4 linked regions of the Homo sapiens genome follow. The protein of the gene in region 1 purifies or fractionates together with the protein of each later gene. This does not show direct contact. Each region holds a gene or a part of one and is shown on either strand. Other genes may lie near its edges.

Region 1 (7,041 bases):
CATTTCATTTATCTTACTTTTTAGCTCCAGTATTCATGTTTGGTTCCATTTTACAATTTTTCTTAACCAATATTCTCACTTTGTTTATACATTTGTTTCCTGATTTCTTTTAGTTCTTTGTCCATGTGTGTCTTTGAGCAAATTTAAGACAGTTCTTTTAGTCTTTGTCTACTAAGTGCAATGTCTGGGCTTCCTCAAGAATAGTCTCAATTCTTTCTTTTTCTTGTTCCTTTGAATGGGCCACACTTGCCTGTTTCTTTTTACACTGTGTGATTTATTTTTTTGTTGTTAAAAACTGGGCAGTTTTGTATTGTAATGAAGTAACTCTGGTAGTCAGATTTCCCCTCTTCCTGTTTTACTTTTGGTTTTGGTTTTGTTTGTTTGTTTTCTAGATTTGTGTTGTTGAAGGCTATAGTAGTCCATCTGTTGTTGTTATTATTATCATTATTGTTATTATTATTATTTTGTTTGGGACTGGGTATTGCTCTGTCACCCCAACTGGAGTGTAGTGTCATGGTTATTGCTGACTTCAGCCTCCACTTCCCGGGCTCTAGCGATCCTCCCATCTCAGCCACCTGAGTAGCTGGGACCACAGGTGCATGCCACCATTCCCAACTAATTTTTGTATTTTTGGCAACAAGGCTTTGCCGTGTTGCCTAGGCTAGCACTCCATTTGTTTAGGTGTTTTTCCAAACTATTTTTGTAGAGACTATTTTTTGTCATGTATCGCCATTGAAACCTATGTTAATTTAGCTCATGTTCAGCTAATGTTTGGACAGCAATTTCATTGAATGCTAAAAGTTAAAAAATGACAACAACAACCAAAAGAAAAAATAGTCACACATTACTCTCACATTTTTAGATTGGCTCTGTGCTGGGGAACTACTTAAACAGTTAGCCAGATGTGCACTTAGCTTAGGGATCAGCCTGACATGTAAGCTTTAGGTCTCCACTAGTATTTTCTGAGCATGTGTCTTGTATGCACACACCTTTCTAAATTCCTCCATGTGGATACTTTTGAATGTACTTATTTCTAAAGGAACCTCCCCCAGCTTTTGCTCCCAGATTCAGACAGTCTGTTTTATGTCTTAATCCATAATCATTGCCCTAGGTATTGTGGTTTGTTAGTTTGCCTTGCAACATTTTGAAACAGTGCCCATCACTTTTCCAATCTGCATTCTCAATCGAGTGGAACATACATAAATACCTTGTATCAGTCCTTCAAATAGCCCTCAAATAGGTTAGGACAGACATACACAGTAATTTGTCAATAAGTTTTGCTTAGCTCACTCTGGAATCAGGTACTGAGGTCTCACACTAGGAATACAGGCTGAGGCTACTTTAAGACTTCCACTACTTTAGGACTGCCACTGCTCTGGGGTGAGGGATGTAACAAGTACAAGTAAAAATAGCAGAAAACTTTCCTATTATTTTCAAGTGACCTTTTTCTTGATTTAACATTTACATGGTTGATGTAAGCCTTTGAATGTTTTCCAGAGTTCTGACAACATTGATTATGACAGTTCCTGCTTGTTTTTCTATGTTTCTGTAGGGGCATAAGAGCTTGAAGCTGCCTACTCCTCCATTTTATCTGGCTTCCGCTATCATTCTTAATATATTTATTCCAAGGTTTCCAGGGGTGTCAGCATGCACTGGAAAATGAATGTATGAAGAAAATTTAAGTATCACACAGGACATGTTTTTGAGTCAAGCCTGGGAATGGCAAACAATATTAGTATCCATATTTCATTGGCTAGAAATGATGCACATGCCCCCACTTCATTGCAGTGGGGTTAAAGAATTTTGGCTAATGGTGTTCCCAGGAGAAATAAAGAATAGGTTAAGTGAACAACCAGCCAGCTTCTGCTACAACTAGCATACAATTAATATGCTTTCACAACTAGAATTGTTTCTTTGAGAAAGAGCTGTGACTGGTATCAGGCAGGAGCCTTGTTCCTGTTGAAGTTAGGCTGTCAGATCTAAGAATCTCTAGAGAGCATTTATTTCAATTTCCTCAGTGTTGGGACTTCTGATGCCCAGAAACTGGGGGTCGGGGGGAAGGAATATGGCCAAAGTTAGTACCAGAGCTGAGACAAGAGCCAGCTAGAGTGTTTGCCTCTCATCTATACCATTGGCATTCAAACATTTTTTACCATGACCTAGAGTAAGAAATAACTTTTTATCACAACCCAATATATACTTTCATGCATTTTATCTGTAAAACTTTTATAAAACAGTACTTATGTGGGTAGTGCTTATGACTATTTGTCAAATATTTCAGCTCCCCACATTCTGTCACATTGTAGAATTGCATTTTCTTGTACCTGTTGTAGTTATTAATGATCATGTGATGTGTATGGCCAAGGACATGTGAGTAAAGCAATATGGGTCATTTCTTGGGGAAAACTTTAAGAGCTTGTACGCAGTTCACAATGTTTCAATCATAAAAGCAGAAAAATAAAGCTTCTGTAACCCCGGGTACCCCATTGAGGATGATGTACAGCAGAGTCCTCAGGAACCCCCTGGTAGGCAAATATGATGAGTGAGAAATAAACTTTTATTCTTTTAAGACACTGAGATTTAGGGTTTGACTTTTGCCATACTGCAGCATAGCCTATGCTGACTGATACAAATACTTAGCTTTACTTCATTCCATGTACTCTTATATTTGATACTATTATTCTATTTCATTCTATTTTATCTTTCAATGCTGGCTGGAAGCTAGTGAATTGGTTTTATGACTTAGTAATGGGGTTGCAAGTTGCAAAATACTACCCTGTACAGTCCACTTGTCCCACAGGTGATCCCATCTCCAAGCTCCTATAAAGCAATATTAACAACCCCCATCTGTCTACAGGATTGTGGTTATGGAGAGGGTGGAGATGCCTACTGCACAGCCTGCCCTCCTCGCAGGTACAAAAGCAGCTGGGGCCACCACAGATGTCAGAGTTGCATCACCTGTGCTGTCATCAATCGTGTTCAGAAGGTCAACTGCACAGCTACCTCTAATGCTGTCTGTGGGGACTGTTTGCCCAGGTGAGCTTGCTTTATGAGACCAAGCTTGTCTGGGCTTTTCTAGCTGTTGGAGGTTTCTCCCATCCTCACCTCTCAGAACTTAGTCGAAATATTCTTCTTATAAACATAATATTCAGTTTAAGCTCCCAGAAGAGAGAAGTGGTGTCTTCCCAAGATACCTCTATAAAGTGCTTAGCACATTGTCAGTCACAGATGAGTACTTGACCGCTTTTCCATCATCACTCTCAGCTGAAGACCAAAGTTCAAGGTAAATCTCACTGTAGACTTAAAAGAAGTTATGATGTACTTGGTATCAAAGCAGTGCACCCCTCTCTTGTGGAATTAGGTCTCCTTTTGGCTACATGGTGTCATGAATGGGGGAAGAAGTAGAGTGTCTGGGTCTCTGAGTCAGAAAAAGACACAGAGGCAGATAACTCAGAAAGAGGGGTGGGCACTTACTTTCAGGTTGGCAAGATTCTTAGGAGCTGCTTTCCCAGGAAGAACTGGTCCAAGTGCATTGCTTGTTTGATCACCCTGCCATTCCTAATTGCTCTGAACACAGGTTCTACCGAAAGACACGCATTGGAGGCCTGCAGGACCAAGAGTGCATCCCGTGCACGAAGCAGACCCCCACCTCTGAGGTTCAATGTGTGTACCCAGTTCTCTTCTTCCCTTTCTCCTCATCCCATTGGGTGGCAGCAAGATAGGGTAGTAAAGACTACCCATATCCCCTCATACCTTTTCATGTAGAGTAGAGTGGCAAGGGAATCAGATTAGAAGTCTGGTTTTACAACATATTATCTTTGCAACTCTATGCAAATCATTCAATCTCATTGAACCTCATTTCCTACTTCTGAAAAAAGGGTGAGTCATGATAATCATTTTTCTTCATACCTTGTGTGATGGGTATCTAGGTCTAATGAGAAAATGGATGTTAGGAAGCACTTCACAAATTATAATATTTGTAAACCTATGAGATATTATTATTATATGAAGTATATAGGAGCCCCTAGGGCTGAGGACTTGTAAGAGGCTGAATGAAGAACTAGGGTCCAATCTATGCCTATACCACTATCCATTTATCTAATCGTCTATCTTTTTTGTCTACCATCTATTTACTTACTTCCTATTTTAAAATTATTGACATATTTTTTAAATCATGAAAGTTTTCAAACATGTAGAAATATTTTTAAGTGCAGAAAAATATAAAATTAAAATGCAATCACCCAGCATCTATCCAAAGTTAATAAATCATAGCATTTTGCATATTTGCTTCAGATGTTTTAAAAGAATAAAGATTCCACAGATATAATGGAATTCTCTTCTAGATTCTCTCAGAGTCCTATTACCTCCCTACCTCCTCAGATACAACCACTATCCTGAAATTGTATGTATTCTGTTGGTAGGCTATGCTAAAGTAACAAACAAACTGCAAAATCTCAGTGACTTTATACAATAAAAGTTTATTTTTTTTTTACTATGCAAAGGCCTTCCTACATCATTTGACTGTGCATTCTAGACCATATGTCTTCCAGGTCAATGACACAGGGGAAGAGATGGAGGAGACATACTGGTTCTTAACTGCCTCAGTCTGGAAGTGACACATGTTATTTCAACTCACAGTTCATTGGCCAGAAGTACTCTGATGGCCTTACTGCAAGGGTGTAAGGGAAATACATGGGAGTATGTGGATAACTGGTGAGCACTATACCTCTGCCATACTCTCCACTAATGTTTTAATACTTGGGTTCTTTTGTGATATGTGTGCATATTCATAACCAATATATGCTATTGTTATGTATTGTATAATGTTTTATAGAAATGATATCAAGCTATATGTTCTGTTTCTCCAACTTCCTTTTTCCCCCTCTAGATTATTTATATTGATCCATAAAGGCCTTTAAGTGCTGTATAATAATGTAAGATTTTAGGATTATATCATGATTTGTTTATCTTGTGCTCTACTGATGAATTTTTTAGCTTGTTTCCATTGATCTGGATTATATAATTAGATGTGGCACAGAAAGATCACAGGATATGTGCATCTTCGATTAATTGTACTAATTTCTACATACCAGCACTATATACAAATTATTTTGCCTTGTTCTTTATAATTTTGCCTGCTCTAGAAAGAAGTAAAACCAGCATAGCCACCCTAATTGGGGAAGGCCCTAGGGAGAAGGGTGACAGCCTGAGGAAGTCCAGGTCCAGGGTCAGGGTGACTGTTTACTGCCCATGCTAACTGACCTCCCCCATTTTTTTGTCTCACAGGTGCCTTCCAGTTGAGCTTAGTGGAGGCAGATACACCCACAGTGCCCCCTCAGGAGGCCACACTTGTTGCACTGGTGAGCAGCCTGCTAGTGGTGTTTACCCTGGCCTTCCTGGGGCTCTTCTTCCTCTACTGCAAGCAGTTCTTCAACAGACATTGCCAGCGTGGTAAGGGTGGCTGTTTCATGTTTCACATGAATCAGGAACAAGGCTCTTATTGGCAGAAGAGAGGGATGTTCTGGGGTTGAGAGACAATGGGCCTTTTCTACCATGCTTGAAAACCCCATGAATAGTCTTCTGTTGGCCTGGGGAACTATCTGGGGCTGCAATGGAAAGCATGGGACTTAAGAGATTACTGAAGCCAACCCTGAGAGTTTAGAAGACCTGGTTCATTATGTTTCAGGGGATTTTAAAGGAATGTGGCACGGTGGGAAACCCCTCAGGAAAGGAATCGGGAGACCTAGGTTCTATGTCTACCTCTAAATCACCGTGTAACCTTAGACAAGTCATCTAGCCTCTTCAGACCTCTTTCTTCCTAATCTTTAAGATAAGAGATAGGATTGGATTTGTTGATTTCTGGGTTCTTTTCCAATTCTTTATATCTATACTAGTAGGTATAAATTCTAGAGCATGTCATGAATTGAGGAAGGCTTGGCTATATCTGAGATACGACTGTAATAAAAGTGGTTGAGGTCTAAGGCCACTGCTATCAGTATAATAACTTCACAAATGGGGATAACTGAAAGCCCTATGTCCAGAGTAGTTGGCAAACCTGGACTTTCTCCCTCAGATAATACTGATGTCAAGAGGTCTAGCCCAGTCCATATCAGACAGCCATGCAAAATTCCAGATGGAAAATCATATTTAAAGTCACAGTAACATTGTGATCTCTATTAAGCACAACTTCAGCTACTAGACAAGAATGTGGGACAGAAAAGCCAGCTCACTGAGGACAAAGATGGGGGAGGTGGGAATGTGGCTGATCAGGACCAGGCAAAGAGTTAGAACTCCAGCCAAGAGTACCAAGGTTCAGTGCAGCTTCATTGCCATTAAGGGAACTGAGAGTTAGGCAGGGACACTGAAACAGGAACTCAGATCAGAGAATGAAGTTGATTTATAAGGGGGAAGATAAAGTTTACTAGATAAAAGAGTGCTCAGGACTCCTTTTCAGCCCACTGGATACTGTGTGCAAAGCTGCAGTATTTGTGTGGGAAGATCCTGCTAATGTAAATTTGCCTTGGGTCAGTTTGGCTCTGGGGCCTAGCAGATGATCTTGAAAAGCCCAAGAGGTATGTTTGGTTGTGCCCTGGCTTAATTGGAGATGAATATAGCATTTCATGGGCTGCAGGATACACGGGGAACACTGTTGTTCCTTTATGATTTTTCTCAAAGTCTACTTCTTGCTAGCTCCTGGGACACTGTGACTCAAGGTAGACCTTCCTGTCTCTGACTTTGGAGGCCAGTGTCCCAGATAAGAGTTGTTGCTTAGGCCCTGGGTGCATGGACATGAAACATGAGCAATGAAGCATTTGGACTCCAGGGTCCAGAAGATGAAAATGAGAAAATATCAGAGAGCTGCCTCAGAAGAAGAGAGATGGGTAACCCTTTTCTGCTCTCCTTCTATCCTGAAGATAATAATGTGGTAACCTGCTTGGAATATGAGGGCAGGCAGTTTCCTCACTGTTTTTATAAGGGCTAGGAAGGCTAGACATTTTCTTACTTTGGAAAACTGTTTTTCAGGAGTCACTGACTTACACA
Region 2 (2,791 bases), on another chromosome or scaffold:
TGCCAGGAAGCTGTTTTGACCTGAAACTGGGGCCTAATATGAGTCTCTAGCAAGACTCAATTAATGAAAGACATTTTTTAAACCATAGGGAAGTGAGGGGGAGGGTGGAGAACCCAAGGGAAAGGCGGCTAATGTAAGGGAAACTACTTCTCCTAAAAGACATTTCATATAAAACAAACCAAAACCAAAACCAAAAAAAACAAAAAACAAAAAAAGGAAAGAAAAAAAGCAAGGACTGCCAAGACTGCCTCTTTCTTATTCTTCCAAAAGCTCCAGCTCCTGAACTGTGGATTCTAACCAAGGTGGGTGGAGCACAGCTTGCACTGCAAGGGAATGAAGCCAATGCGAAGGCCCAGAGGGAAGGGAAGCGTTGTCAGAGTCTGGTGGTAAGCTGAATTCTGTGCCTGTTTAAATGGGGTTGTCCTTGTGGTTGCGGCATTTCCCTTCTCAACTTCAACAGACAATCAGTGGCATTACCCAAAAGTGGAGACGCATTGAGGACAGCACAGTTACAAGTGGGCATGAGTTTTTATTCTCAGTGCACAGCAGTATTGGTTTCTGTTCATCAGCAAAAAGCTTTATTGGCTCCAACAAATTATCCCTTTTAAAACTCCTCTTCTTCTTCTGGTCTCAGTGGAACAACACATTTGAATTTCAGATTTGCAGTTTATAGCATTTTTTTTCCCTAAGAACCATATAAATACATGCAAAACCTTGTACATAGAGCTTAAATAATATCAAAATGCAAATATAGATTGGGTGCACTGTTAAGCTGAATTGCAAATTATGGCAACACACACTGGACTGGGGTATACGTTGCTTTGATATCACCATTTGTTTGTTTATGTCATGCAGACCACAATAGTCAATCTTTTGTTTTTCTTTTTTGTACAAAAATACCAGTGCTTGTTATACTAGTTACTAAAAGAAGAAGAAACTCAAAATTCCTATCTGCGTGCTAATTTGAAAAGAACAACGTAGATAGATTTGTTGGCACATATATATGGCATATTCACATATGGCATATATACATATGGGGAGAAAACATGAACCAAAGGCCAATTCAGTTATGGGAGCTCATCTCCTTCCATCTCTCCTAATCAAGAGCAAAGGGAACAGCAGGCCTAACAGCAGGGTTGGGAAGGCAAAAGGACTGGCACTGAACTAAGTGAAAGGGCGTCTGGTCTATTCAGAGGAAGAGGCTGGAATGGCTTAACAATAGCAGGCATTTATAAGTGCCCACCCTCACCAATGCATCGGGGGTGGTCCCTAGATATGAAAGGTGAGGAAGTCTCTGCATACTGTGATGGTACCACGGGCTGCTTCAATTGTAAGGCAAAGGAAGCAGGAAAGAAAGGAAGGGATGCATTTAGAGGCTTTTCCACACAAGCGAGTGTGCCACGCCCCTCTGGGTTTTCAGCAGTGAGGTAACCATTCAGATTTAACCATGCCAACTCTCCTCTCTGAAGCTCAAGGGGAAGAAGAAACTCAAACCCTAAAGAACCCACAAGTGTCCAGAGGGATTTCTAGGTGATCTCTCTCTTAACCCCTTTAGGGACAGGAGAGTCATTCCAGAGGACAGATGATACTATGGGAAGGATCTAGCCTTAAGACTGTCACTCAGGGCTAGAACCAGCCATTGTTTTATCCATTTAGAATTCTGTCCCCATTTAATATATTGCACAAAATCTTTCTAGGGGAGGGAAGGCATCACAAATAAGATCCTTGCACAAAAACTCACTAATGGAAAACTCCAGGGGGAACAGGAAATAAAAACCATGAAAAATGCAAACCCCAAATCAGAGTATCCTTATAGACCAGGAGATATTCGTGTCTTTTATACCACTCTGCCAGCTATTCTTCAAGAAACACAAATCCAACAGAGGCCCCTGATCCTAATGACTAGTCAGGAAAGATTCTGTCTATCCATCTGCATGGTGGGGGTTGGGGGGAAGATTCATTTCCTGACAGCTGTGTCCCTTGCTGGGTGTTTTCCTGACTATCCACAGTTTACTACCCGTTTTTCTAGGTTTATTAAGAGAGGAAGCTAGGATGATACGTTCTCCTTCTCCCCATCAGACCCTTTTCAAATCCAAAGCACCATTTTGGGGAAAAGTGTTATTAACTTATGCCATATTTACCCACTGCCAGTTGGATCAGTGAAACTGAATAGAAAAAACTTATATAAAAAACATATGCACATAGACACTTAAACTTACCTAATTCCATATCAACAAAATTTATATTAAAAAAGTCTAGAACCCAACAATTTTTCTTCCCTAAGTATAAAGATGGCTGTTTGCAGAAAGAAAGTATGGTGTATTGGTTTTAAAACCAATTACAAATATACTAAGTCACCTGTCATGCCAAACAGCTGGTTATGTGCTCCCTTCCACAGGGCTACATGACGGCACTTTATTTTAAATCCTTTAAACAAAATACATATGGCTGACCCAAAAATATCAGTTTCTGATCTAAAGAAAACTATAATTTTTGCATATATTTCTATATTTTCTCTCCTATTATGGAAACTAGAACACAAGAAAAAAAACCATTGACTTTTAAAAAGTAGACACAAGCCCTCAAGGGTAACCTGTCAGGCACCATGAGAACCTTTTGTGAACAGGAATGGTAAAATAGCCTTCAAAGCTCGTTATTGGCTTGCTATTTAAAATGATCTGAGGTAATACAAGATTTGATAGAATTAAATCTTCTAAAATAGTTGATGAATATATATGTGAAACCTAACACCTTGGGTGAGCTGTTTTTTTCCCCTATGAGTATTTAAGAC
Region 3 (6,578 bases), on another chromosome or scaffold:
TGATCCGCCCGCCTCGGCTTCACAAAGTGCTGGTATTACAGGCGTGAGCCACTGCACGCGGCCAGGAATAACAGAGAATATTTCTACTGAATTCACGACTGTCCTGTGCTTGGCTTTATACTCATTAAACATATATGAATTTTTAAAAAGATAAATAACACATAAGCCAATACTGAGACTGAGACATAAATTGACTGGAATAGGTTTTGAGGACATAACCATCTAACCCTCTGGTTCCCAAATGTGATTAGATTTTAAGTAATTGAGGATAGGAAAACACAGGAAAGTCTCCTAGGAGCTGTCTCTATCTGCTCTCTTCCCTTTTTTTCTTCTTCCCACTCTTTCTTGAATCCATTACAATTCTAGCCTGAAGACTGAAATGGCTCATGGAAAAAAATCACCAATGATCTCCATCCACACAGCCAAATTCCATGCTCAAATCAATCCTCACCTTACTCAACCTACCAAGAGAAAGAGATCCAGAAGTCAACCCAGTAGCTTCCAAAGACTAGGCACATAGTTATAAACAATTTTGTTACTGACGTGTCAGCTTTTAATCAGTTATGACCACTGTTGTTCATGTTAATTTCTTGCAATCACTCCTAAGAAAAAAAAATTCTCTCATTCCAAATTACAAACAACCAAATTACAAACATCTGGAACAAAACTCTTCCAAAGGAAACAAACAACTACTTTTATTGTTAAACTTTCAATTCACAGATTAACTTTCAAAGGTTCATATTTCCCACGTTCTTTTTTTTTTTTTGAGACAGGGTCTCGCTCTGTCTCAAGGCTGGAGTGCAGTGGCACGATCTTGGCTCACTTCAACCTCTGCATCCTGGGCTCAAAAAATTCTCCTGCCTCAGCCTCCCAAGTAGCTGGGACTACAGGCATGCACCACCCTGCCTGGCTAATTTTTGTATTTTTTGTAGAGACAGGATGTGTTCCCCAGGCTGGTCTCGACCTCCTGGGATCAAGCGATCCACCTGCCCTGGCCTTCCAAACTGCTGGGATTACAGGTGTGAGCCACCGCACTCGGCCCCTATTTCCCACATTCTTAATGACACCCCATCCACAGTGGTCCAATCAACTTTCAAATTAGCTCTGGGGAAAAAAATACATTTAATGAAAGCTAGAAAACCTAGAGAAGGTCTTGCTCTTCATCTTTCACTGCAGCTATGGACAGCTCGGCACCACATTTGCACCAATCAGCATGTTTGCCCATGTCCTGCCAAGGAGAGAAGTTTACATCATCACTGACAAGGTGTGTTCACCTATTCTCATCACGTAACACTGATGGATTCCATACCTAATTTATCAATCTAAGACATTACTGGACCACGTAACCTTACATATAACTACCTGACCATATTTTCACATGAAGTTGCTGCTGCTTATTATACATCAAAGTTCACGTCAATGTGGCATGAAGTCAAGAGGATTCCAAGCAAACTCCATCAAAACCTTGGGGCTCACAGCATCTCCCAGTGTGTAGATTTTCACATCTAAGTTCTGAAGACATGATCTAAGCGTGGAAGAGCTTCTGAAGTTGACCACTGATCTTCTGAGTGCAAGTCACATCTGGAAATCCTGTAGGCAATGTCATGGGCAAAATTGTGTTCATAAAACTGTGCTTAGGTCTGCTTATGATAGATTATCACGTCACGAAAAAAATGCCACAGAAGTCCAGACTTTTAACCAATCTACTAGCTTCTGCATCAGTATCACAATGCCGAGCTCTGAATTTTAAATGTGCACATATTGTCATATTCATATAGTGACTTAGAGTTTTCAAAGCACTAGGTACATGGTCCTCAAAAATGGTTGGCTTTATATGACCCAAACTAAGGACATTTCACAGGTTTCAATGTTAACGCGTATTGTGAGGGTTTGTGCATAATTATCTTCACACCAGTAAAGGTATTCACTACAATACATAAATTCATTACACAAACCAAGAATAAGCTTCTAACTTATATTGACAGATATGTCACACACGTAATTTGTCCATATTTTACTATTCCATAAATACTTACTATTTCTATCAATAATGCTACTGGAATGGAATAATATTACATAGAAAAACGTAGGAAAACCAGATATAACAAGCTCTAAAGGGCTAAATTTCAGTTATAAAATGGGTCAGAGGCTGAGAAATCACTATTTATCCACAAGAATTGCCTTATAAATCAAAAGATGACTGCAGGTTTCTCTTACATATCCAAATCTAGGAATAAGTTCATTCCATAGCAGATTTGAAAAAACACAAATATAATGTAGGAAGTAATATCATTCATGGCAAACCAACAGCATGAAATTTGGTAGGCTTATTTAGGATGAAAAGGAATAATCTAGATTGTTTTAATACCCTATAAGAGTCCATGTTAAGTCACCCTGACAAAAAATCTTTTTAAAAATATGGTAACCATAAATAAAGTTGCTCAAAGGCACCACACACACGCACACACACGGTTCTCTAATGAAATACCAGTTGAAGTGCAGCATTTTCATTACAGATAGTCAAACAGCTAGAGCTATACAATACACACAGATTTTTCCTAATAGTACCAGCAATCTTAGTTACAAAATAATACTTTTCAGTAGTCTTTCTTGATGCACATTTAAAAACCAGCACAACTCCTCTAGTGAAATGGTCAATTTCCCTTAAAAAACAACATCTGAAATTATAAGACCTGACAAATCATATTATATTTCAATATTAGACTGCTGTGGCTCTAGAACAACAGAAAAGCGTAACTTTCAAACAGCTTAGGGAAAAAGCACTGAAATGTAGATGTCGTCAATCAGCCTCAGGCATTATTGATCCTGTGCCATCCACACACCCTTAAGGTTTTTCACAGCACTCTGACGGTATTATGTGTGTTTTGCAAATGACGAATCAACAGTATGCTGAATAATCAGCAATGAAACACAGGAGATAAATTAAATGTGTTTTTCCAAATGTCAGAATATCGAGGTTCCCAGGAGTTGGCAAAACTTCTCAAGTGGCCATCCAGACTCAGGCTGTGCAGGATAAGGCTTCCTTACGTAGTGAACGGTTGAGAATATTTGCTCCCCACACCCAGAGCCATTCAGGCATATACTGTGCAAAAAGAAACTAAAAATGAAAGAGAAAAAGGTTGTAAGGTTAGAACCCAAAATCAACACTGAAGGAACAAGTACACAGACCAGCACATGAAACCCACCAATCACAACAAATACCCACCAATCAATCACAACAAATACCCACCAATCACAACAAATACCCACCAATCAATCACAACAAATACCCACCAATCACAACAAATACCCACCAATCACAACAAATACCCACCAATCAATCATAACAAATACCCACCAATCACAATACACACCAATCAAACAAATACCCACCAATCACAATACCCACCAATCAAACAAATACCCACCAATCACAACAAATACCCACCAAGCAATCACAACAAATACCCACCAATCAATCACAACAAATACCCACCAATCACAACAAATACCCACCAATCACAACAAATACCCACCAAGCAATCACAACAAATACCCACCAATCAATCACAACAAATACCCACCAATCACAACAAATACCCACCAATCACAACAAATACCCACCAATCACAACAAATACCCACCAATCAATCACAACAAATACCCACCAGTCACAACAAATACCCACCAATCACAACAAATACCCACCAATCAATCACAACAAATACCTACCAATCACAAACACCCACCAATCAATCACAATACCCACCAATCAATCACAACAAATACCCACCAATCACATTACCCACCAATCAATCACAATAAATACCCACCAATCACAATACCCACCAATCAATCACAATAAATACCCACCAATCGATCCCAACAAATACCCACCAATCACAATAAATACCCACCGATCAATCACAACAAATACCCACCAATCAATCACAACAAATACCCACCAGTCACAACAAATACCCACCAATCACATTAAATACAACAAAGGAAAAAGCCTCCAGGTACTACTGTACTGAATACCTACTTTTGCCTAAGATCTTACCCTAGATTCTACATGGAACAGAAACATGACCACCACCCACCTACCCGACTTTCTGTAATGAGGCTGGACTGTCCTGCATGTAAATACAATTCTGTCTTTACTTAACGTGATATGAACAAAATGTTCACTGGTTAAGAACCACAAAATCGGCTGGGCACGCTGGCTCATGCCTGTAATCCCAACACTTTGGGAGGCCGAGGCGGGTGGATCATGAGGTCAGGAGATCGAGACCATCCTGGCTAACAGGGTGAAACCCCATCTCTACTAAAAATACAAAAAATTAGCCAGGCGTGGTGGCGGGAGCCTGTAGTCCCAGCTACTCAGGAGGCAGAGGCAGGAAAATGGTGTGAACCGGGGAGGCGGAGCTTGCAGTGAGCCGAGATCGCGGCACTGCACTCCAGCCTGGGCAACAGAGCAAAACTCTGTCTCAAAAAAAAAAAAAAAAACACCACAAAATCATTATAGGAATAAATCAGTTGGAACAGACAGACGCATACGTGGTTAGTACTCTATGAGAAAACTGGGGCTTGAGGGGTAGTATGGAACAAAGTTCAACAAGAAAACAGGTCAGAAACACCAGTACCTTGGGATGGTATCTTGACCTATGATGGGGGTGCTCAGGGGACCAGGGAAGGGAGTCCTGCTGATGCTGCTCTGCTTCAGGGTCTCACTCAGGGCCTTTGTGCTAGCAGCAGACATAGGGCAATGTCTGAAAACAAATTTGGTCGTCACACTGGGAGTGGATGCTACTGGTATCTAGTGGGTGGAGGCCCAGGATGGTGTTCAACATCCTACAATACACAGGACGCTCCCCATGTCAAGGAATTACCTGCTCTCAATGCCAACAGTGCTGAGGTGGAGAAAGCCTACACTCCTCTAACAGATTTGTTCAGAACCGAATGAAAGTTCTAACACCGTGTATACGAAAGAGAAGAGAGACAGGCCCTTGGCAAGTACTGACATTCTAGTCTTGAACTGAACTGATGAATGATAATAGAGGTCATTCAATCCTCTTGTCAATAAATGGACACAGGTTACTCTCCAGGGAGGACACACCCACACCCACACACACACACACTCACGCACTTTGTGAACAAAATCACAGCAGCAAAAGCTATCAGAGAAATATGCCATGGACAAAACAGCAAAGGATGAATCAAATCTTTGATGTAAAATTGGAAATAAAAAATGATAGTGTTGAAAATAATTTGAGTAACATAAAATGAAAACAGAAAGTTTTAACAACTTTATACAGAAAACTACTCCAGGAATTAAATCAGCTTAACAGAATTTCTTGGCAGAAAAATACATTCTCAAGGAAAGTTTATCAATGTGAACAAAATTTAATTTTGAGTAAACTGTTCGTGTTTTATAAACACAGTCAAAACATCTACTGCACCTAAACCTGATCCTCATATCTTTATTTCTAAAAAAATTTTATGGTCAGTGACTTCTAAGACTACTTTTTAGGTTTCTCTGCTTTTCTCAAGTAATTAAAGGACCTGGAAACAACTACTTAAATAAAACTGTTTCTTCTTTTTTTTTTTTTTTTTTTTTTTTTGAGATAAGAGTCTAGCTCTGTCACCCAGGCTGGAGTACAGTGACGTGATCAGCTCACTGCCACCTCCGCATCCTGGGTTCAAGCGATTCTCATGCCTCAGACTCCCAGGTAGCTGGGACTACAGGCGTGCACCACCATGACCAGTTAATTTTTATATTTTTAGTAGAGATGGGGTTTCACCATGTTGGCAAGGCTGGTCTCGAACTCCTGACCTCAGGTGATCCACCAGCCTCAGCCTCCCAAACTGCTGGGATTAGAGATGTGAGCCACCACCACGCCCGACCAAAACTGCTTCTTATTAATCTCTCACTTTTCATAAAAGTCATAATTAACTGTTGATATACTTACATGTTTATTTGGTAGTGGCAAATCTAATACTCTTCATGCAAACAGTCCCAAAAATATCTGTTTGATAATTAAGAAAACTCCGAATATTAAAAAAAAAAAAAAATTCGGACCAGGTACAGTGACTCACACTGGTATTTTTTTTTTTTTTTTTTGTGAGACGGAGTCTTGCTCTGTCGTCCAGGCTGGAGTGCAGTGGTGTGATCTCGGCTCACTGCAAGCTCTGCCTCCCGGGTTCACGCCATTCTCCTGCCTCAGCCTCCTGAGTAGCTGGGACTACAGGCGCCCACCACCACGCCTAGCTAATTTTTTTGTATTTTTAATAGAGACGGGGTTTCACGGTGTTAGCCAGGATGGTCTCGATCTCCTGACCTCGTGATCCGCCCGCCTTGGCCTCCCAAAGTGCTGGGATTACAGGCTTGAGCCACCACGCCCTGCCAGCTCACGCTTGTAAATCCCAGCACTTTGGGAGGCCAAGGCGGGTGGATCACCTGAGATCAGGAGTTCGAGACCAGCCTGACCAACATGGTGAAACTCCATCTCTACTAAAAACACAAAAATTTGCTGGGCGTGGTGGCAGGCACCTGTAGTCCCAGCTACTCCGGAGGC
Region 4 (7,041 bases), on another chromosome or scaffold:
CAACCTCAGGCTGAGGTCCATAGTCAAAGAGCTTGGTTCTTGCACCCGGCACTTCCCCACCCGTCCAGCACTTCCAGTGATCTGCCTGCCTCAGCCTCCCAAAGTGCTGGGATCACAGACGTGAGCCTCTGTGCCAGACCCTAACTTTTCCTAGATTAAACTTATTATAGATTGCATGTCTCTAACCTGAAAGGCTCCAAAATCTGAAACTTTTTGAGCGCCCACCACAAGTGGAAAATTCCACACCTGACCTCATGGGACAGGTCACAGTCAAAAACTGTGGCTCACGTCCAAATTACTAAATACATAAAATTACTCTCAGGCTATGTGCCTAAGATGTCTATAAAACATAAATGGATTTTGTGTTTACACTTGGGGCTCATTCCCAAGGTCTCATTATATTATGAACATGCAAATATTCGAAAACCTGAAATCCGAAACACTTCTGGTCCCAGGCATTTAGGTTAAGGAATACTCAACCTGTATTACTTGTGTAGTAGAACAGAAAACACAAAAAGGTCTATTTTTTTTTTTTTTTTGAGACGGAGTCTCGCTCTGTCGCCCAGGCTGGAGTGCAGTGGCGTGATCTCAGCTCACTGCAAGCTCCGCCTCCTGGGTTCACGCCACTCTCCTGCCTCAGCCTCCCGAGTAGCTGAGACTACAGGTGCCCGCCACCACGCCTGGCTAATTTTTTTGTATTTTCAGTAGAGACGGGGTTTCACCGTGTTAGCCAGGATGGTCTCGATCTCCTGACCTCGTGATTCACCCACCTCGGCCTCCCAAAGTGTTGGGATTACAGGCATGAGCCACTGCGCCTGGCTTTGTCTATTTTTTTTGAGACAGAGTCTCGCTCTGTCATCCAGGCTGGAGTGCAGTGGCATAATCTTGGCTCACTGCAACCTCTGCCTCCCAGGTTCAAGCAATTCTTGTGCCTCTGCCTCCCAAGTAGCTGGAATTACAGGTGTGTGCCACCACGCTTGGCTAATTTTTGTATTTTTAGTAGAGATGGGGTTTCACCATGTTGGCCTGGCTGGTCTCAAACTCCTGACCTCAAGTGATCCGCCCGCCTAGGCCTTCCAAAGTGCTGGGATTACAGGTGTGAGCCACCGTGCCCAGCCAGAAAAAAAGTTTAAAAAAATAAATCAGAGCTCCTACTATTGCCAAGCGACCCTGCAAGCCCACCACACACTGTGCAGCTGTTGATGCAAGGGTGCCCACCCACCACCAGCATCTGAAGCACAGCACCCCCAGCTAGGAGCTTCAGGTTTTCCAGAGATTTCCAGGTGAGTCTCTCTTGGATGCCAACAGTTTCTACAGAGCAGTGTGAGCACCTGTGTGTCTCGCCCGGGGTACAAAGAAGCACAGAAGCTTCTGACCCAGGGCCTTCCTCAGGATGGCACGGTGGCTACTCTGTGAAAGGCTTTCCCTGCTGACCCAGAAAACGGGAACAAGGCAGGTTCGGCTGGGCTTCATCCACTGTCCACGTAGACAATGAAGGAGCGAAGGACAGTCCTTCTGCTGGGTCCCATGCTAGGAACCCCTCTCCTCGATCTAGAACTGCTTGCAATGGGAAGACCCTGAACTTCTTTTGTTTTGTTTTGTTTTGAGACTGAGTTTTGCTCTTGTTGTTGCCCAGGCTTGGAGTGCAATGGGGCGATCTTGGCTCACTGCAACCTTCGCCTACCGGGTTCAAGCGATTCTCCTGCCTCAGCCTCCCAAGTAGCTGGGATTACAGGCATGCGCCACCACGCCTGGCTAATTTTTGTATTTTTAGTAGAGACGGAGTTTCTCCATGTTGGTCAGGCTGGTGACCCGGAACTTCTTGAAGAGAACAAGGGCACACAGAGGCCAGGGCAGAATGCTGATGTCTGGGTAGGGTGTAATAAATACTCACTGAATGAACTCAAGTTTTACTTGCTGGCCAGGGAGGAAGTAGACCGAGAAATCCCTCCTATAGGCTGAACAGGGGACAGGACTTCATACGCTGGCTCCTGACTCAGGGCATTTGGATGTCGAGGAAGGAGAAGGGAAAGGTTTCTGCCTCGGGGGTCTGGGTCAGCCTCTGTCAACAAGGTTTACGCAGAGCCAGGAGAACAGAGCTATTGAACAACTCACAGCGGCAGGTCTGAAGGAGGGAGAGCCTTGCCAAAGCTGAAGCTTCCTTGTTCTGAGAGGGCCATGTCCCCAAAGCTGATGCAAAATCCCTGGATGCATTCTGAGGCCACAGTTTGGGAGCAAAAGAGAACAGCTGCAGCCCTATTCCCAGCCTGGGCTCACTTTCTCGCCAGGAGTCCCTCAAGCACGGGGCAGCAACAACGACGTCTCCACGTACGCAGAGGCATGGGGGTGCTCAGGGGCGCACCTCTGAAGGTCAGAAACGGAATGGCCATACCCAAGCGGGGAGGAGATGCCAGCTGCCGGGTGGTCGGGAACCCAGAGCGGACACTGGCAGCCTCAACTCCACAGGGCAGATGCCCCGCACAGGGGAAGGGACCCGTCAGCCTCCCCACGGGAATGGAATTTGCAGCTGTGACTCATACAGAATGTTGGGCAAGAACAGAACCAGGAAGGCAGGACTGGCCTTTTGAGGGGACAGGCCCTGTGACGTCCGGGCAGGGTATTCAGGCCAGAGCGGCCTGGCTCTGTGCTGGGAGGCAGGGCGGGTAGAGACCTCGAAGCACTCACCAAACCAACTCATTTATTCTTCCTCCAGGGTATAGAACTAGACTAAGTGTGGCCAGGCGTGGTGGCTCACGCCTGTAATCCCAGCACTTTGGGAGGCTGAGGCAGGCAGATCACCTGAGGTTAGGAGTTCCAGACCAGCCCGGTCAACATGATGAAACCCCGTCTCTACTAAAAATACAAAAGGTTAGCTGGGCATGGTGGCAGAAGCCTGTAATCCCAGCTACTCAGGAGGCTGAGGCGGGAGAATCACTTGAACCTGGGAGATGGAGGTTATAGTGAGCCGAGACTGCGCCACTGCACTCCAGCCTGGGCCACAGAGCAAGACTGTTTTTAAAAACAAACAAAAAACGAACTGGACTAAGTATACTAAACGTATAGGTGGCCCTGTGCCCAGGTTCTAGTCTTTGAAAGATCAGCAGAAGTGACGTTTGCAGCTTCTGGTCAGGCCCATGAAAACCTCACACCCAGGGGCTCCGCCACGTCTCTTCCCCTCCGTGTCTGTATACAGCCAGCCAGGGCGACCTAAGCCGCCTCGTGGGCGGCCTCCCCATCAACCGGCCTGGAACCACGTAGGGGGTCTGTGAGCGAGAAATAAATTCCTGTTATGTTTATATCAAACCACCACATTGTGTACTTCGAGGCAACCCTAAAAGTACCTAAGAGGTCAAGTCTGCTAAACCCCTTGGAGAGAGTTTCAGTTTCATTCTTTGTGATAAACTAACAAAAATAAAATCTCCAAAGCAGAGGAAAGAAAACTAAGATAACAGAAAATAACCCAGAAACTCAACCACAGAATATGTTCCTGAGGAAATAGAAAAATCTGGAAAAGTCTAAGAAAAGATTTTCAGGAACATAATGGAAGGAACAGCATAAATTTAAAAATAACCCAACAGTAACTTGTCAAACAAAACGGAGCATGATGAATTAGAGCAGCAGATGTAAAAATAGTCACTGAAACAAAACACACTCTGGAAGATGGAACCCAGAACACCTCAGAGATGGATGAGGAGAGAAATACCTGAAGTGATAATGGCTTCATTCCTTCCCCAGAAATGAAAAGGCACACCAGCTATAAAGCAGGATAAATGAAACAAAGCTTCCCCTACACACATTGTGCTGAGAGAGAACAGATAGAATACCTGACCAGAGGTAACATTAGAGAGATGGCGGCCTTCCTCTGAGCAAAAACACAATGACCAGCGCTGCTACTTTTCAAAGCAACAAGATCAAGACCAGGCGTGGTGGCTCACGCCTGTAATCCCAGCACTTTGGGAGCTGAGGCATGCGGATCACCTGAGGTCAGGAGTTCCAGACCAGCTGGCCAACATGGTGAAACCCCATCTCTATTAAAAATACATAAATGAGCTACGCATGGTGGCACGCACCTGTGATCCCAGCTACCCGGAAGGATGAGGCAGAACTGCTTGAACCCAAAAGGCGGAGGTTGCTGTGAGCTAAGATCACGTCACTCCACTCCAGCCAGGGCAACAGAGCAAGACTCCATCTCAAAAAAAATAAAAATTAAAAAGGCCGGGCACGGCGGCTCATGCCTGTAATTCCAACACTTTGGGAAGCCAAGGCGGGTGGATCACCTGAGGTCAGGAGTTCAAGACCAGCCTAGCCAACATGGTGAACCCTTGTCTCTACAAAAATTAGCCAGGCATGATGGTGGGTGCCTGTAATCCCACCTACTTGGGAGGCGAGGTGGGAAAATCGCTTGAATCCGGGTGGCAGAGGTTGCAGTGAGCCGAGATCACGCCATTGCACTCCAGCCTGGGCGACAGAGTAAGACTCCGTCTCAAAAAAAAAAAAAAAACCCAAACCCACACAAGATCAACCTACCTCTTGCTGCCCAGCTTAAACTAGATGACAAAAGAAAGATTTCCATACAAAGACTGGCAGCTTCCCATCTATACCTCCTGGCTGCAAAAACTACTAAAAAAGGTACTTCAACAACAAGAAAATAAACGTATAAGAAACAAGCAAAAGGAACCATGAGGCAAACCAAACATTACTCCCCACCTCCCCCTTTTTTTTTTGAGACAGGGTCTGGCCTTGTCGCCCGGGCTGGAGTGCAGTGGTGCTATCACCACTCACTGCAGCCTCGACCTCCCAGGCTCCATCCTTCTGCCTCAGCCTCCTGAGTAGCAGGGACCACAGGTGTGCGCTGCTATGACTGGCTAATTTCTTTTTTTTTTTGGTAGAGATGGGGTTTTACTATGTTGCCCAGGTGAGTCTCCAACTCCTGGGCTCAAGTGATCTGTCCACCTTGGCCTCCCACAGGCTGAGATTACAGGTGTGAGTCACTGCATCTTGCCAGTAAATAGATATATGTATTTTTAAAAAGGTACAATGGCCAGGTGTGGTAGCTCATGCCTGTAATCCCAGCGCTTTGGGAGTTCAAGGCGGGGCGGATCACCTGAGGTTGGGAGTTTGAGACCAGCTTGACCAACATGGAGAAACCCCATCTCTACTAAAAATATAAAATTAGCTGGGCGTGGTGGCGCATGCCTGTAATCCCAGCTACTCGGGAGGCTGAGACAGGAGAGAATTGCTTGAACCCAGGAAGCAAAGTTTGCGGTGAGATTGTGCCATCGTACTCCGGCCTGGGCAACAAGAGCAAAACTCCGTCTCAAAAAAAAAAAAAAAAAAGTAAAACGAATCCTACAAGACTATGACACTATGACAGGGAAACTAGAAAGGGGCCTTCAGAGGGTATTCCAACACTAGTTGTAGCTATTTAACCTTGTTATTTTACTAAAAGATCAGATAACTTCCAAGTCAGCGAGGGAAAACGGGAGGACAGAGCGGAAGCTGGCAGGAAGAGTGATGCCAAGACAAGCCAACTTACAAACTGCCCCTCGTCGATGCCTATGACAGCCACGCCCAGGGCCTCCTGGGCCACGTCTCGGAGCAGGCAGGCGGGCAGTGCCTCCATGGTGTTCCTGGGAAGAGAAAGCCAGAGCGTGAGCAGGGCCAGGGAGGCCAGAAGCCACAATGCAGGGGCCAGGGAATGGCACTGTCGTGACCACCTGCTACCTGCAAAGCAGGCTCAGTGTTCACCCAGCCGGGCTTTGAGAAGTTAGCACCTATGGGAAAGGCCCTCGTCCAGAAAACCAGTTATTTATTTATTTTTTATGAAACAGAGTCTTGCTCTGTCACCCAGGCTGGAGTGCAGTGGCGCCATCTCGGCTCCCTGCAATCTCTACCTCCCAATTCTCAAGGGTCTCAAGCGATTCTCCCACCTCAGCCACAAGAGTAGCTGGGACTACTGGCACACACCATCACACCCAGCTAATTTTTGTATTTTTAGCAGACATGGGGTTTCACCATGTTGGCCAGGCTGGTCTCAGACTCCTAACTTTTAAGTGATCCACCCGCCTTAGCCTCCCAGAGGAAAACCAGTTATTTATACAAGCCACTTCACTTGATGCTTTGGATTAGAAATTAGTAATGTCCAGTACAAAGCTCAATGAGACTAAAAACTCTTCCACTGTTCAGGAGCTGGGGGCAGACTAGGCCAACTTCATCAGGTACCAGGGCCCATGATACCATTAGGGGCCAGCCAAATGTTTCCTTTTAAAATTCAGAAGAATGAATAACTAGAACTGGGCCTGGGTTATATTTGTCTTTATATTAATTATGTTGCAAAACATAAATTTTTAAAATCCTGTATTCTGGCCAGACACAGCAGCTCATGCCCGTAATCTTTGGGGAGGCCAAGACGGGAGGATCACTTGAACTCAGGAGTTCGAGACCAGCCTGGGTAACACAGCGAGACACTGTGTGAAAAAAATGTAAAAATTAACTGGGTGTGGTGGTGTGCGCCTGTAGTCCCACCTGCTCAGGGGGCTGAGGTGGGACGATCACTTGAGCCCAAGGGTTTGGGGTCACGTAACAGTAAGCTATGATTGAGCCACTGCACTCCAGCCTGGGTGACAGAGAGAGACCCTGTCCCAAAAACAAACAACAAACAAACAAAAAAACATACTTTACAACTATTGTTTCGTTATTACCTTGCTATAATCCTACTTCGAGTTCTGGAAAGAATGTGTGAAACAGTATTTTGGGCATTTTAAATTCCCTCTTCCCTCCCTAAACAGAGAAAGACAAAGTGAGGGCAGGTGGGAGGCCAGCTGTGGCCCCTGCAAGGGCAGCCTCTCGAGCCATCAATGCTGCTGGCCCAGCCTTGGCCTCTGTGGCCCGTGTTAGAGATGACTTGTGACACACGGGCAGAACTCATATTTAATCCCGGATCTGACTGACTCCAGAAGTTGTACTTCCAACAGCTGGAACGAAGTGACCTCCTCTGCTTTCCCTGTCCCCACCAGGTGTAACACCACCCTGTGCCGTGGA

Evidence for each region.
Region 2: the proteins of EDA2R (region 1) and ATP2B4 purify together in Homo sapiens (affinity purification with mass spectrometry; 3 studies listed by BioGRID and IntAct, with this or other methods). This does not show direct contact.
Region 3: the proteins of EDA2R (region 1) and HSDL1 purify together in Homo sapiens (affinity purification with mass spectrometry; 3 studies listed by BioGRID and IntAct, with this or other methods). This does not show direct contact.
Region 4: the proteins of EDA2R (region 1) and TK1 purify together in Homo sapiens (affinity purification with mass spectrometry; 2 studies listed by BioGRID and IntAct, with this or other methods). This does not show direct contact.

Annotation. Positions count from the first base shown.
Region 1 is NC_000023.11:66,601,043-66,608,083, reverse strand, and holds part of EDA2R (tumor necrosis factor receptor superfamily member 27), read left to right. Parts: intron 1-2,857; coding exon 2,858-3,036; intron 3,037-3,577; coding exon 3,578-3,663; intron 3,664-5,286; coding exon 5,287-5,451; intron 5,452-7,041. UniProt on the Homo sapiens protein: Receptor for EDA isoform A2, but not for EDA isoform A1. Mediates the activation of the NF-kappa-B and JNK pathways. Activation seems to be mediated by binding to TRAF3 and TRAF6.
Region 2 is NC_000001.11:203,741,800-203,744,590, reverse strand, and holds the end of ATP2B4 (plasma membrane calcium-transporting ATPase 4), read right to left. Parts: 3' UTR 510-2,791; downstream 1-509. UniProt on the Homo sapiens protein: Calcium/calmodulin-regulated and magnesium-dependent enzyme that catalyzes the hydrolysis of ATP coupled with the transport of calcium out of the cell. By regulating sperm cell calcium homeostasis, may play a role in sperm motility.
Region 3 is NC_000016.10:84,121,611-84,128,188, forward strand, and holds the end of HSDL1 (inactive hydroxysteroid dehydrogenase-like protein 1), read right to left. Parts: intron 3,119-6,578; coding exon 3,020-3,118; 3' UTR 531-3,019; downstream 1-530.
Region 4 is NC_000017.11:78,177,053-78,184,093, forward strand, and holds part of TK1 (thymidine kinase, cytosolic), read right to left. Parts: intron 5,631-7,041; coding exon 5,537-5,630; intron 1-5,536. UniProt on the Homo sapiens protein: Cell-cycle-regulated enzyme of importance in nucleotide metabolism. Catalyzes the first enzymatic step in the salvage pathway converting thymidine into thymidine monophosphate.